4 linked regions of the Homo sapiens genome follow. The protein of the gene in region 1 interacts with the protein of each later gene in a biochemical or structural test. Each region holds a gene or a part of one and is shown on either strand. Other genes may lie near its edges.

Region 1 (3,500 bases):
TTTCCAGGTGTGACTTATTCTTGCAGATTAATTATCCTTAAATCCTCCCTTTCATCTTGTTACTTCCCTATACATAACCTTAAATGGTTTCCAGTTTGTTTTGAAACCAAGTCTGAACTACTCTGCTTTGCTTTCAAGGTTCTTCGAAGTCATCTGACTCTACTCTCCTTTCCAGTTTGGTCAGTGTCCTCTCTGCTATATAAAAAATATTATTATAATTAGAGCGTCTGTGCCTTTCCATAAACATGCTGAAGTGACCTGGCCTGAAAGGACCCATTCCTTCCACCTACCTCTTCAACCTTATCTCTAATCTTTCTTACCTTTACCCTATGTTCTTGACATAGATGAGTACTTATGGTTCCCTGATAACACTTGCCTCGGGAGCTTTGCACTTGCTTTCCCCTCTACCCTTGGCCTCCTCTACCTCCTGTGTTAACACTTCCTTTATCATGCACTCCAGGCCAAGCAACTCATATACTCTTTTAAGCCACCACTGCCTCCTCTACAGACTCCTGTCATAGCCCTTATTACATAATACTGCAGTGATTGATTTGTTTGCTGTCTGCCTGATTCCTAGCTATTAGATTGTGAGCCACCCTCTCAGAAGAGTTTAGATTTGGTTTCAAAACAAGATTTATGACCTCCACTAGCTCACAATTGTTTTGTACTCCCAGTGAATCACTTTAGTAACTCAATTGATATTTGTTGAATGAGTAAATAAGAAACTTTCTACCTAAATTTTCACTATTCAAAGTTCAAGTAAAATCCTCCTACATCTCTGAAGACTTCTTTGACTTTTCTAGTCCTTCACTCCTTCTCTGACACCTGACACTACTTAAAGTTTGTACTATAAAAATTAGGATTATTTCTTTAACTGTATTGCAAGCTCCTTGAAGGCAGGGATGCATATTTATATTGTGTCTGTCATTGCATTGATCACTGTGCCGAACACACAGTAAAAACTAACTAAATAAATACATATTTGCTTTCTGATTGGAGTTATATAAATTCTGTGCTTAGGAAAATGGCAGCTAATAGTCTACTCGGACAATTCTAATTCTATTCTTAATCTAATTGCAGTCATAAAATTAAGTACTAACTCATTCAGAAAATATTTAGCATATACCTACTAATTTCCTAGCATCCAACCAGTGGTTAGGATACAGGCATGATTGCTGTCAGTAAAGAAATTCTTCCCAGGAAAAATTAGCATTGCTACATGGAAACTGTGTACATTTCTTTCACTTTTAAATTTGAAGATTTGCAAATTTTTAGTTGGCTGATTAAATGGTTTCTGAGTGGCCACCAGATTACTTTGCTTTGTGGGGAATGTCTTCCTAATTGACATTTCTTAGTGGTGCATTGAATTCATTCTTGTATCTGAGATTGTCATGGTTGAAAAATGAGTAGGATGAGACCTGAATGATCTGGTCTAATTTTTGTTTTAATCAATCTATGTCCAGAAACTAATGGATTGGACAGGACTAACCTAAGTTTTGTGTATATCACAACTGGAGTGCTCACCAGCTTACTTAGACTGACCAGATGCTGCTGAGTAGTAGCTGTCATGGGGCTGTAGTGACATCTCACTAGCATTACCAACCAGAGTCCCAGGGAGTATCATCAGGCACGTTCAGAGCAGAAGAGTAGACACCGCCCTGTGTTTTTCAGTTCCAACCCTTTGCTACATCTTAGGCCAACGGTCTCACTTCTGATTTAAATCTAAGTTGAGTTTCTTGTTTTCCTGTTTCTTTATCCACTAGCTCATTCAACATTTCTGAGTGGCTACCATGAGCCCAAAGCTGTGCTCAGTGCTCAAGACACAAAGGTAAAAACAACAGAATCCCTGCCCTCAAGGAGGTCAGCAGGATAACCTAATAGTCAAATGTATCTGCCACTGTAGAAATAATATTTGGCATTGCCTTATGTCGCCTTTGAAAAGCAAAAATCAATATATGAATATGTCTTTGGGCCAGAATCCCTTGAATTAATATGCCTATATATAAACAAAAATGCTATTATTAATACTACTATTGTCCTATAATTGAATATTATGGAATAAAAAGATGATGCCCAGATGCCCTATTTACATACAGAGAATAAATGTTAAATAGTAATGAAATCATATTCTAGTAATAATCAGGTAGTTACAAACACAAAGTAACTCTTGTAGGACTCTAAATACCAGGAATTCTCTACAAAAGTAATCCACTTCAACCACATTTTTCACATGTTATTCCATTATAAAATCAAAAGTAGGACATGTTACCCTAGGGGCTAACGCTGGTTCCAGGTTTTGTGGGACCTGAAGCTCATAAATGTGGAAGGGCTCCTTTAAAAAGTAAAATAAACTTAGAATGCAAAATTAGGTATAGCCTAGTCAAGTGAGGCGTCCTGAAACTTGCACTGCATTTGCCTCACAGAAAAGCTGACCATGGTAGGCAAATAAAAGATGAATAACCTCTCTATCCATCAGTCATAGCTTTCATGAAGCTGACATGGAAAGTGTATAATACATTTAATACATGTATAATGAATCTTTAAATTGACTTTAGCCTCAGCCCAATTCTATAGGTTTTTATGCTATTATTTGGGTTTCTTTAAAGTTTAAAAAAATACTGCAGGTATTCATTGCATAGAGACCTTTTTTAGGCTATAAATTGTAGCCCTGCGCTGTCCAATACTGTAGTCATTAGACACATGCAGTTACTGGGCACTTGAAATGTGGCTCGTGCAACTAAATAACTGAATTTTTAATTATACTTATTTATTTATTTATTTATTTATTTATTTATTTATTTATTGAAGGAGTCTCGCTCTGTCGCCCAGGCTGGAGTGCAGTGGTGCAAGCTCGGCTTACAGCAAGTTCCGCCTCCCGGGTTCACGCCAGTCTCCTGCCTCAGCCTCTCAAGTAGCTGGGACTACAGGCGCCCGCCACCATGCTTGGCTAATTTTTTTTTTTTTTTTGTATTTTTAGTAGAGACCGGGTTTCACCTTTTTAGCCAGGATGGTCTCGATCTCCTGACCTCGTGATCCGCCCGCCTCAGCCTCCCAAAGTGCTGGGATTGCAGGCGTGAGCCACTGCGCCAGGCCTAATTTACTCATTTTGAGATGGAGCCTCCGCTCTGTAGCCCAGGCTGGAGTGCAGTGGTGCGATCTCGGCTCACTACAACCTCTGCCTCCCAAGTTCAAGAAATTCTCTCTGCCTAAGCCACCTGAATAGTTGGCATTACAGATGCCTGTTACCACGCCCGGCTAAATTTTTTTGTATTTTTAGTAGAGATGGGGTTTCGCCCTGTTGGCCAGGCTGGTCTTGAACTCCTGACCTCAAGTGATCTGCCTGCCTCGGCCTCCCAAAGTGCTGGGATTATACGCTGGAGCCACTGCGCCCGGCCAAAATGAAGGTTGTATTCCCTAGGAAAATTTAACATCCAAATTGAAATATGCTGTCAGTGTAGAATTCACGCCGAGTTTCAAATCCCTGGTATAATAAAAATAAT
Region 2 (3,500 bases), about 40 Mb from region 1:
ATCGCAACTGCTATGTATTTTCATCTCCCTTCTCTAACAATCAGTAACAAGCAACCCAATCAGTAATAAACAAGCCTGACAAATAGCTCCTAAATTCACAGAGAAAAGAATGGTCTCCTCTCTTTCATAAGTAAAGCAAGCTGATAATGTTCTAGTAAATAGAAAGACTAAATGCCTCTTCAAGAAAAAAACATTTATATGCCTGGAAAAAACATCTTGGGTTTTTTTGTTTTTGTTTTTTTACTTAAGTATCTGTTCATAGTAGGTAGCAAATAATCTTTCCACACATATGCACTTTACCAGTTCTTTTAAAGACTCAGTAATCTAAGAAAGCAAAGCATAAGACTATGCTGAAAGAGCTAAGCCGCAGTTTACATAAAATTTAAACAAAACACAAGACATTAAAAAAATTCAACTACTCATAAATAAAGACCAATAAATCTACACTTTGGTCTGGGTTTCTGAACACAGGAAGAATCAGAGGGTTCAATAGGAGAGGTTATTTCTGAAATCGTAGGCATACCTTGAAGATATCACATGTTCCATTCCAGACCACCTTAGTAAAACTAACACTGCAATAAGGTAACAGAAATGTTTCTGCTTTCCAAGTGCATATAGAAGTTATATTTACAGTATACTGTAGTCTATTATGTTGGCAATAGCATTAGCTCTTAATTTTAAAATGCTTTATAATTTTTTTAAAATGCTAGTGATCATCCGAGCCTTCAGGGAGTCATAATCTTTTTGCTGGTGGAGGATTTTGCCTTGATGTTGATGGCTGCTGACTGAACAAGGTGCTGGCTGCTGAAAGATGGATGGCTGTGGCAATTTCTTAAAATAAGAAAACAATAAGGCCGGGCGCTGTGGCTCACGCCTGTAATCCTAACACTTTGGGAGGCTGAGGTGGGTGGACTGCGTGAGCTCAGGAGTTCAAGACCAGCCTGGTCAACAGAGTGAAACCCCATCTCTACTAAAATATAAAAAATTAGCCAGCTGTGGCAGTGTGCACCTGTAATCCCAGCTACTCAGGAGGCTGAGACAGGAGAATCTCTTAAACCTGGGAGGCGGAGGTTGCAGTGAGCCAAGATCGTGCCATTGCACTCCAGCCTGGGCAACAGAGCGAGACTCCGTCTCAAAAAAATAAAAAAAATGAAGTTTGCCACATCAACTCACTCTGCCTTTCAGAAAAGATCTCTCTTTTGGTAGCATTTCACCCACAGTAGAACCTCATTCACAATTGAAGTCAATCCTATCATACCCTGCCACTGCTTTATTAACCAAGTTTACAGAATATTGTAAATCGTTCATTGTCATTTCAACAATGCTCACAGCATCTTCACCAAGAATAGACTCTCTCTCAAGAAGCCACTTTCTTTGCTCATTCAGAAGAAGCAACTCTTCATCCATTCGAGTTTGATAATAAGATTGCAGCAATTCAGTCATATTTTCAGGGTCTACTTCTAATTCTAGTTCTCAGTATACTATTTCCACCACATCTGCAGGTACTTCTTCCACTGAAGTCTTGAACCCCTCAAAGTCATCCATGAGAGCTGGAATCAACTTCTTCTAAATTCCTGTTAATGGTGACATTTTGACCTCCTCCTTTGAATCACAAATGCCCTTAATGGCATCTAGAATTGTGAATCCTTTCCAGGTTTTCAATTTACTTAGCCAAGATCCATCAGAACAATCACTATCTATGGCAGCTATAGCTTTACAAGATGTGCTTCTTAAATAATAACTCTTGAAAGTTGAAATGACTCCTAGATCCATGGGTACAGAGTGGATGTTGTGTTAGCAGGTATGAAAACATTAATTTCCTTGTACATCTCCATCAGAGCTCTTGGGTGACCAGGTGCATTGTCAATGAGCAGCACTTGTTCAATGGTACCCTTTCTTCTGAGCAGTGGGTCTCGACAGTGAGCTTAACAGATTCAGTAAACCACGCCATAAACAGATGTACTGTCATCCAGGCTTTGTCGCTCCATTTATAGAGCACAGGCAGAGTAGATTTTGCATGACGCTTAACAATTTTTGGAATGGTAGATGAGCAGTGGCTTCAACTTAAAGTCACCAGCTGCACTAGCTCCAAACAAAAGAGTCAGCCTGGCCTTTGAGGTGAAGCACTGACTTCCTTCTAGCTAAGAAAGTCCGAGACGGCATCTTCTTCCAATATAAGGCTGTTTCATCTACACTGAAAATCTGTTGTTCAGTGTAGCCACCTTCATCAGTGATCTTAGCTAGATATTCTGGATAACATGCTACAGCTTCTATATCAGCATTTGCTGCTTCACCTTGCACTTTTACATTAGGGAAGCAGCTTCTTTCCTTAAACCTCATGAACCAACCTCTTCTAGCTTCCAACTTTTCTTCTGTAACTTCCTTACCTCTCTCAGCCTTCATCGAATTGAAGAGAGGGTTTTGCTCTGCTGGCTTAAGGGAATGTTGTGGCTGGTCTGATCTTCTATCCAGACCACTAAAACCTTCTCTATATTAGCAATAAGGCTGTTTCACTTTCTTATCATTTGGACGTTCAGCAGAGTAGCACTTTTAGTTTCTTTCAAGAACCTTTCCTTTGCATTCAGAGCTCGCTTGTTTGGTGCAAGAGGCCTAGCTTTTGGCCTGTTTCAGCTTTTGTCATGACCTCCTCACTAAGCTCACTCATTTGTAGCTTTTTGATTTAAAGTGGGAGACACGCGACTCTCCATTCACTTGAATACTTAGATGCCAATGTAGAGTTATTAATTGGCCTAATTTCAATATTGTTGTGTCTCAGGGAATAGGGAGGCCTGGGGAGAGGAAGAGAGTTGGGGAATGGCCAGTTGGTGGAGATATCAGAACATATGTAACATTTATCAGTTAAGTTCACCATATTATATAGGTGCAGTTCATGGAGCCCCAAAACAATTAGAATCGTAACATCAAAGATCACTGACCAGAGATCACCATAACAGACAGAATAACAATGAAAAGTTTGCAATATTGTGAGAATTACCAAAATATGACAGAGACACACAAAATGAACATACACTATTGGAAAAATAGCACCAATCGACTTGCAGGGTTGCCAACGAACCTTCAGTTTGTAAAAAACACAGTATCTTCAGAGAGCAAGCCTGACTAACAATTTCCTTCACTTTAAATTCAAAATGAAGGAATACCCTTTCCTTCCGAATGTATCTCATTTAACAAAATTCAAGACTTTTTTTTTTTTTTTTTGAGACGGAGTCTCGCTCTGTGGCCCAGGCTGGAGTGCAGTGGCACGATCTCAGCTTACTGCAAGCTCTGCCTCTTGGGTTCAGGCCAATTCTCCTGCCTCAGCCTCCCGAGTAGCTGGGATTACAGGCGCCCACCACCACGCCCGGCTAATTTTTTCTATTTTTTAGTAGAGACAGGGTTTCACCGTGTTAGCCAGGATGGTCTCAATCTCCTGACCTTGTGATCCGCCCGCCTCGGCCTCCCAAAGTGCTGGGATTACAGGCGTGAGCCACCATGCCTGG
Region 3 (3,500 bases), on another chromosome or scaffold:
TGCCCATGTGTCTTACAGGCTCCAGAAACTCAACCTGTCCAAAACAAAGTCATGCCTCCCAACTGGTTCCCCTCCTCAGTGAAAAACAATAATTTTGGTTATCTGTTGAGCTCTGTGCTAAGTGCTTTAAAAATATTCTGGCCCCTGAAATGTTTTCTAGAGTAACACATCAAAGGTAGGTGTAATTATTCCCTATATTAGAAAGGAGGAACGTGAGGGTCAGGGAAACTTTAATTAGTAGACTCAAACTCAGACTTAATAAGCAGAAGAGTGGCCATTTGAATTCAGGTCTGTCTTATGTCAAAGCCACTTTCTTCCACAGAGGCTTATCACCCTGCACCAGTCCCAAGCTGGAAATCTGGAACACATCCCAGCCTCTTCTGTTCCCTCACTTCCCTTCCTACCCCCACCCCAGCCTGATCCTCTTTCCTTTATACTTCCCCACACTACCCCTCTTCTTTCTATCCTGACTCCCTGTTCTGCTGCAGGCATTGCTGTCTTTCCCTGGTCTCGGTATCTCTTTGGCAGTGGTCTCAGTGTCTCTTTTCACCGGCAGAGTGAGCTTTCTAAACCTGAACCATAATCTGGGCATGCCATTCTATCATATCTTTGGTTAGCAGACCCTTCCAAGACTCTCTAGGCCCCTTTAGAATAAAACCCAAATATAACAAAAGGGCCCTTGATGAACTAGTTCCTGCCTCTCTCTCTAGCCTTTTCTCTTACTACTCTCTCACCATCTAAGCTGTCGCCATATTGCACTATTTGTAGTTCCTGAACAAGTGCTGTTCTCTTGCACCTGTGTGACTCTGCACATTCTGCTCTCCTGCTTTAGAAAGCAGGTCTTCCTTTTTCCACTTGACTAATACCCTCTGAGAAGAAGCCTATATACATATATTTCTGTCTCCCACTGTAGACTTAAGTTCTACATGCCAGGGACTACATTTAAAAACCCACAATATAGTGCTGGCACAGAGTAGATGTCAGTAAACGTCAGGACACTTGTTTAGCCATCTACTAGATGTGCTTATTCTTTTGTTCTTGCTTGGTTTCTTCAGTGGGGCTCCTCAATGACTCTTCCATGTCACCGAAGCCTTATAGTGTTCCAGCCAGACCTTGAGGCAATGATCTGCATCTGGGGTGGTCGGGGGGCTAGAGAACTAGGCCCAGATGGACACACACAGGAGCATGTTTTCCCGGTAGCCATCTGGATAGATTTAGAGCTACTGTGCTTGCCAACATTTTATCTGGAGACCCAAGAGGGAGACCCTGGACAAGGGACACAGACTGTGGACATACTTGTCAGGCTTGAGGTCACGGTGCACGATGCCATAGTTGTGTAAGTACTCCAGGGCCAGCACAGTTTCCGCAAAGTATAGACGCACCATGTCCACAGGCAGGGCCCCAATATTCTTCAGCAGAGTGGCACAGTCTCCCCCTGCAACAAGCCCAGGCTACCATGAGGAAAGGATTCAGTTCCCTGCTCTAGCTAGCCAGCTCCCATCTGGCAGTTTCTGAGGTCCCAGAGGAGACAGCTTCATGGAATATCCTGGTGCTGGAGACTCTGATTCTAGCCCCTTTGCTGCTGGCATGGGTGGGAGACAGGGTGATATGGTTTGGCTGTGTCCCCACCCATAGCTCATCTTGAATTGCAGCTCCCATAATTCCCATGTGTTGTGGGAAGGGACCTGGAGGGAGATAACTGAATCATGGAAGTGGGTCTTTCCCATGCTATTCTCGTGATAGTGAATAAGTCTCATGAGATCTGATGGTTATTTTTATTTATTTATTTTTTTGAGGCAAAGTCTTGCTCTGTCACCCAGGCTAGAGTGCAGTGGTGTGATATCAGCTCACCGCAACCTCTGCCTCCCAGGTTCAAGCGATTCTCCTGCCTCAGCCTCCCGAGTAGCTGGGATCACAGGCGTGCACCACCACACCCAGCTAATTTTTGCATTTTTTGTAGAGACGGGGTTTCGCCATGTTGGTCAGGCTGGTCTCAAATTCCTGACCTCAGGTGATCCACCTGGCTCAGCCTCCCAAAGTGCTGGGATTACAGGCATGAGCCACCACGTCCGGCCCATCTGATGGTTTTATAAAGGGGAGCTTCCCTGCACAAGCTCTCTCTTGTCTGCTGCCATGTGAGACATGCCTTTCACCTTCTGCCATGATTGTGAGGCCTCCCCAGCCACATGGAACTGTAAGTCCACTAAACCTCTTTCTTTTGTAAATTGCCCAGTCTCTGGTATGCCTTTATTAGCAGCATGAAAATACACAGGGTATGGAGGGGGGTGGAAAGTAAAGTGAATCTGCTAATAGCTGTCATGGACATTTTTCAGGCCAGAGAGGGAAGGAACCCAGGCCTTTATTAAAAGTAATGGCAAACATGCAATTACTTTTGTACCAGCCTAATGTTTTTTAGGACAGGAATACTGCATACTGTAAACACATCTGGCTGAGATGTTAACATCTGTTCATGTTACTTCCTTCTTACTGGCTTTTAGTTTCTGAGTAAAGTAACACTATGAACTCCCAGCATGTACCCAGTAAACACTAAAGGACAGTTTTGTTCAGCTTCAGCTTCAAGACTAGGCACAGTATCTTTGGAGGCTGTACACACAGTGAGAAGGTGAGAGGGAAGGGAAACTGGCAAAGCTGCTGCCTCCCTCCAGAACTATGCCCCATGTTGCTCTTCTGTTCTATTCTCAGAGCATTTTGCTTGGTTTTAAGGGGTGTCCCCTTTGCAAGCCAGTCAGGGTAATTAATGGCTTTCCTTTCTTCTGAGGGTCCAGATGCAAACCTCCTAGCACCTAATCCTGGGCTTTTGTAGCTCTGCTGCCTCCTCTGTTGCTGTCTGATACCAGCAGTAGAGAGCGTGCAGGCTTTGGGGTGCAAGATTCTATAGCTGCTGGCCTGCTACATCCTATCCCAGAATGCCTCTCATGGTAGAGGCAGGGAGCTTTGTGCCCACTGTGGCCAAATGGTCTCTGTGATCCTGAGGCAGAAACCAATGCCAAAGGTGGACTGGAAAGCTGGGCCCTGAAACTTCACCTCTGTACAAAGCTGCTGGTCCCTGTTTAAGGCTAAGTCTCAGACTGTGCCTTGGCCTCCATGCCAGGCCACCTTTGCCTCAGTACCTTCAACGTACTCCATCACCATGCACAAGTGGCGCTTGGTATCAAAGGAGCAGAACATGCTGACCACAAAGGGGTTCTCAGCGAAAGTCAGTATGTCACGCTCCACGAAGGCCTGCTGGATCTGGTTCCGTAGGATCAGGTTCTGCTTGTTGATCTTCTTCATGGCAAAGCGCTGCCGGGTGGACTTGTGCCGCACCAGAAATACAGCCCTGGGAAACAAAGTCCGGCCCATCCCCCATGGACCCTCAGCACCTGAGCTGTGCTCTCTGCCACCCAAACTGCCTTCTCTCACACCTTAATTAATGCACAGAACAAGGGGGCAAGGGCATGCATATCAGTGAGAAGGGTCTGGGACCCCCTGGTCCATAG
Region 4 (3,500 bases), on another chromosome or scaffold:
ATCTCTCTTAAAAAAGAAAGAAAATAAAATAATTAGAAAGTATTGCCAGGCGTGGTGGCTCATGCCTGTAATCCCAGCACTCTGGGAGGCCAAGGCAGGTGGATCACCTGAGGTCGGGAGTTCCAGACCAGCCTGACTAAAAATACAAAAAATTAGCCAGGCAAGGTGGTGCACGCTTGTAATCCCAGCTACTCAGGAGGCTGAGGCAGAAGAATCGCTTGAACCTGGGAGGCAGAGGTTGCAGTGAGCGGAGACCACACTATTGCACCCCAGCCTGGGCAACAAGAGTGAAACTCCATCTCAAAAAAAAAAAAAAAAAGTATTAATTGAACATTCTCTGCCAGCAATTCAAATGTACTATTTAATGAAGAAGAAAAAAGACAAGAAATCTCCCTTTCCATCATTGCTCCTCATTCCTAAGAAAGTTATGGCATATGGAACAGGCTTGTAGTCAGCCCTAGGTTTAAATCCCAGTTCTGCCGGTTGTGTGACCTTAGCAAATTATATATACTTTCTGATTCTCAGTTTCTTTATCTGTAATAAATACCTACCTCAAGGGGCCCAGCACAGTGGCTCACACCTATAATCCTAGCACTTCGGGAGGTTGAGGCAAGTGGATCGCTTGAGCCCAGGAGTTCGAGACAGCCTGGGCAACAAGGTGAAACCCTGTCTCTATTCTAAAAAAAAATAAAAATAAAAAACAGGCTGGGCATGGTGGCTCACACCTGTTTTCCCAGCACTTTGGGAGGCCGAGGCGGGAGGATCCCTTGAGCCTAGGGGGTTTAAGATCAGTCTGAGCAACATGGTGAGAAATTTTGAATTTTAAAAATTAAAAAAAAAATTAGCTGGGCATGGTGGCTCACAACTGTGGTCCCAGCAGCTACTCAGAGACCAAGGTGGGAGGATCACTTGAACCTGGGAGGCAGAAGTTGCAGTGAGCCAAGGTTTTGCCACTTCATTCCAGCCTGGGTGTCAGAGTGAGACTCCGTCTCAAAAACAAAAAATAAATACCCATCTCATTCCTAATTTTTCTGTGTATTTTGGAAACACATTTCAAAGATTCAAGTCAAATGTGATAATGCATATAAAAGTATGGCATAGCACCTATCATAGGACAGGCTTTCTTCTTTCCCTACCCAATGCCAAAGTGAGGTGAATGGGTGGGAAATAAAAAAAGCACAGAGAAGGTAAAGAAGTTACAAACTCCATATTGTAACACTCCTCATTTTCCCAAACCCTTTTCTACTATTTTTGTTTATTACCCCCAATCTTTTGAAGCTTTTCTATACCTCATACTGTCCTATAGGGTTAGAGTATGAGGCAGGTTTCACTGCCACTAGCAAGCAGGTGGGGAAACCTAGGGAAGTTTCTGTACTTAAATTAAGCTTAATAGCAATGCCTTATTGGGAGAATCTGAGTCTCCTAACAGGGAACTCAAAACAGTGATTTTTAAATAGTGAGGAGCTGGTAAGGTGGGAAAGGAGGGTGACTGGCAAGGCTACAGGTTCACCCACCTCATAATCAGAGCACTTGTAGGCCAAATATTTTATTTGTTCAAAGAGCTCAGCAGTTAACAAAAACCAGGCAAAAACTGATAATCAGTCAGAAAATATTTTACCACCAAAGTATTATTTTACCTATTTGTGAGGCTTTTATAAGACTCCAACGGGCTGCCTAGAAATCAGGCCAAAAGGCTTATGTTACAGAAAAGACTTCCTGGAAAAACAGATTCTAATTTTCAAAACATCAACTTACAAACTTTCAGAACACTGTAATTTTAGTTTCTTTGTTTTAGAAAATCTATTTTACAAACCTTAAAAGGCTAACCATTTTCCAATGCCATGCTTGTCTTGTTCTAAATATTAACTGTATGTGTATAAAGACAAATATCCAGAACAAGTTGTCCATACCTTTGTCAATTAAAAAAATTAAATGTAAATTTTGATGATAGTGGCTATTTTTCTCATATAATGTTGCAAAGTTTTTATTCAAATAGCCACGATTACTTGTTAACTGACATCATAACTATCCACTTCAACAGAATAATTAAGTCATTTTTCTAATTTTATTACGAAAAAATCTGGGCTAGGCACAGTGGCTCACGCCTGTAATCCCAATACTTTGGGAGGCCAAGGCAGGCAGATCACCTGAGGTCAGGAGTTCGAGACCAGCCTGGCCAACATGGTGAAACCCCCATCTCTACTAAAAATAAGAAAATTAGCTGGGTGTGGTGGCACACACCTGTAATCCCAGCTACTGAGGAGGCTGAGGCAGGGAGAATTGCTTGAACCCGGGAGGCAGAGGTTGCAGTGAGCCGAGATTGCACCACTGCACTCCAGCCTGGGCAATAGAGTGAGACTGAGTCTCAAAAAAAAAAAAAAAAAAAAAGGCCAGCTGAGGTGGCTCACACCTGTAAGCCTGGCACTTTGGGAGGCCAAGGCGGGCGGATCACCTGAGATAGGGAGTTGGAGACCAGCCTGACCAACATGGAGAAATCCCATTCTCTACTAAAAACACAAAAATTAGCCGGGTGTGGTGGCACACGCCTGTAATCCCAGCTACTTGGGAGGCTGAGGCAGGAGAATCACTTGAACCCAGGAGGCTGAGGTTGTAGTGAGCTGAGATCAAGCCACTGCACTCCAGCCTGGGCGACAGAGTGAGACTCTGACTCAAAAAAAAAAAACACAAACCAAAAACCTAGCATAGTAGTATAAATGTTTGCTTAATTAGTAGAACTGCAATTTGCTTGAGAAAGTTCCGTGTCAAGTCCATGGGTCAGTTTTTTATAATCTTTACTTATATCTAATGTGATTCCAAATTTTAGACTCAAACATTTCCTTAAAATTTTATCAATACGGTCATGCATCACTTAACATATATTCTGAGAAATGCCTCATTAGGCAATTCTGACATTATGTGAACACTCTAGAGTGTACTTACACAAACCTACGTGGTATAGCTGACTACAACCTTGGGCCATATAGTATGGCCTATTTCTCTCAGGCTACAAACCTGTACAGCACACAACTGTACAGAATACTGCAGGCAACTGTAACAGTATTTGTGTATTTAAACATAACTAAATGTAGAAGAGATACAGTAATTACACAGTATAAAAAAATAAAAAATGGTACACCTATATAGGGCAGCTCTACTATAATCTTACAGGATCACCATCATTGAAACTTCCTTAGGCAGAGCATGACTATATTGTAACAACTTCAACTGCGGCAGAGCACACATTTATATATAAAGCTGAGAAACTATTAGAAACCATGAGGCCCAACTACCTTTTGTTTCAAATTGCAAAACTAACGCCTAGGGAGTTTACTGAATCGACCAAGGCTAAACAGCTCTTCACTGTCAGAAATGAAACTAAAATCTAGATAGTGTTAGTGCTCTACCTTCCAGTCCTTTCCTTATAACACCATATTGCCTTCTCTGCTCCTTCCAAATGTCTGGCTGCTATTATTTTTAAAGTATCCTTATCTGTAAAATAT

Evidence for each region. The genes of interacting proteins can lie anywhere in the genome.
Region 2: the proteins of MYPN (region 1) and MPP7 interact in a test that uses a peptide from one of them, tested with the Homo sapiens proteins (one large-scale study listed by IntAct).
Region 3: the proteins of MYPN (region 1) and MAST2 interact in a test that uses a peptide from one of them, tested with the Homo sapiens proteins (one large-scale study listed by IntAct).
Region 4: the proteins of MYPN (region 1) and YES1 interact in a surface display test, tested with the Homo sapiens proteins (one large-scale study listed by IntAct).

The regions. Positions count from the first base shown.
Region 1 is NC_000010.11:68,122,988-68,126,487, reverse strand, and holds part of MYPN (myopalladin), read right to left. Parts: intron 1-3,500. UniProt on the Homo sapiens protein: Component of the sarcomere that tethers together nebulin (skeletal muscle) and nebulette (cardiac muscle) to alpha-actinin, at the Z lines.
Region 2 is NC_000010.11:28,296,565-28,300,064, forward strand, and holds part of MPP7 (MAGUK p55 subfamily member 7), read right to left. Parts: intron 1-3,500. UniProt on the Homo sapiens protein: Acts as an important adapter that promotes epithelial cell polarity and tight junction formation via its interaction with DLG1. Involved in the assembly of protein complexes at sites of cell-cell contact.
Region 3 is NC_000001.11:46,023,612-46,027,111, reverse strand, and holds part of MAST2 (microtubule-associated serine/threonine-protein kinase 2), read right to left. Parts: intron 3,341-3,500; coding exon 3,132-3,340; intron 1,436-3,131; coding exon 1,297-1,435; intron 1-1,296. UniProt on the Homo sapiens protein: Appears to link the dystrophin/utrophin network with microtubule filaments via the syntrophins. Phosphorylation of DMD or UTRN may modulate their affinities for associated proteins. Functions in a multi-protein complex in spermatid maturation.
Region 4 is NC_000018.10:802,243-805,742, forward strand, and holds part of YES1 (tyrosine-protein kinase Yes), read right to left. Parts: intron 1-3,500. UniProt on the Homo sapiens protein: Non-receptor protein tyrosine kinase that is involved in the regulation of cell growth and survival, apoptosis, cell-cell adhesion, cytoskeleton remodeling, and differentiation.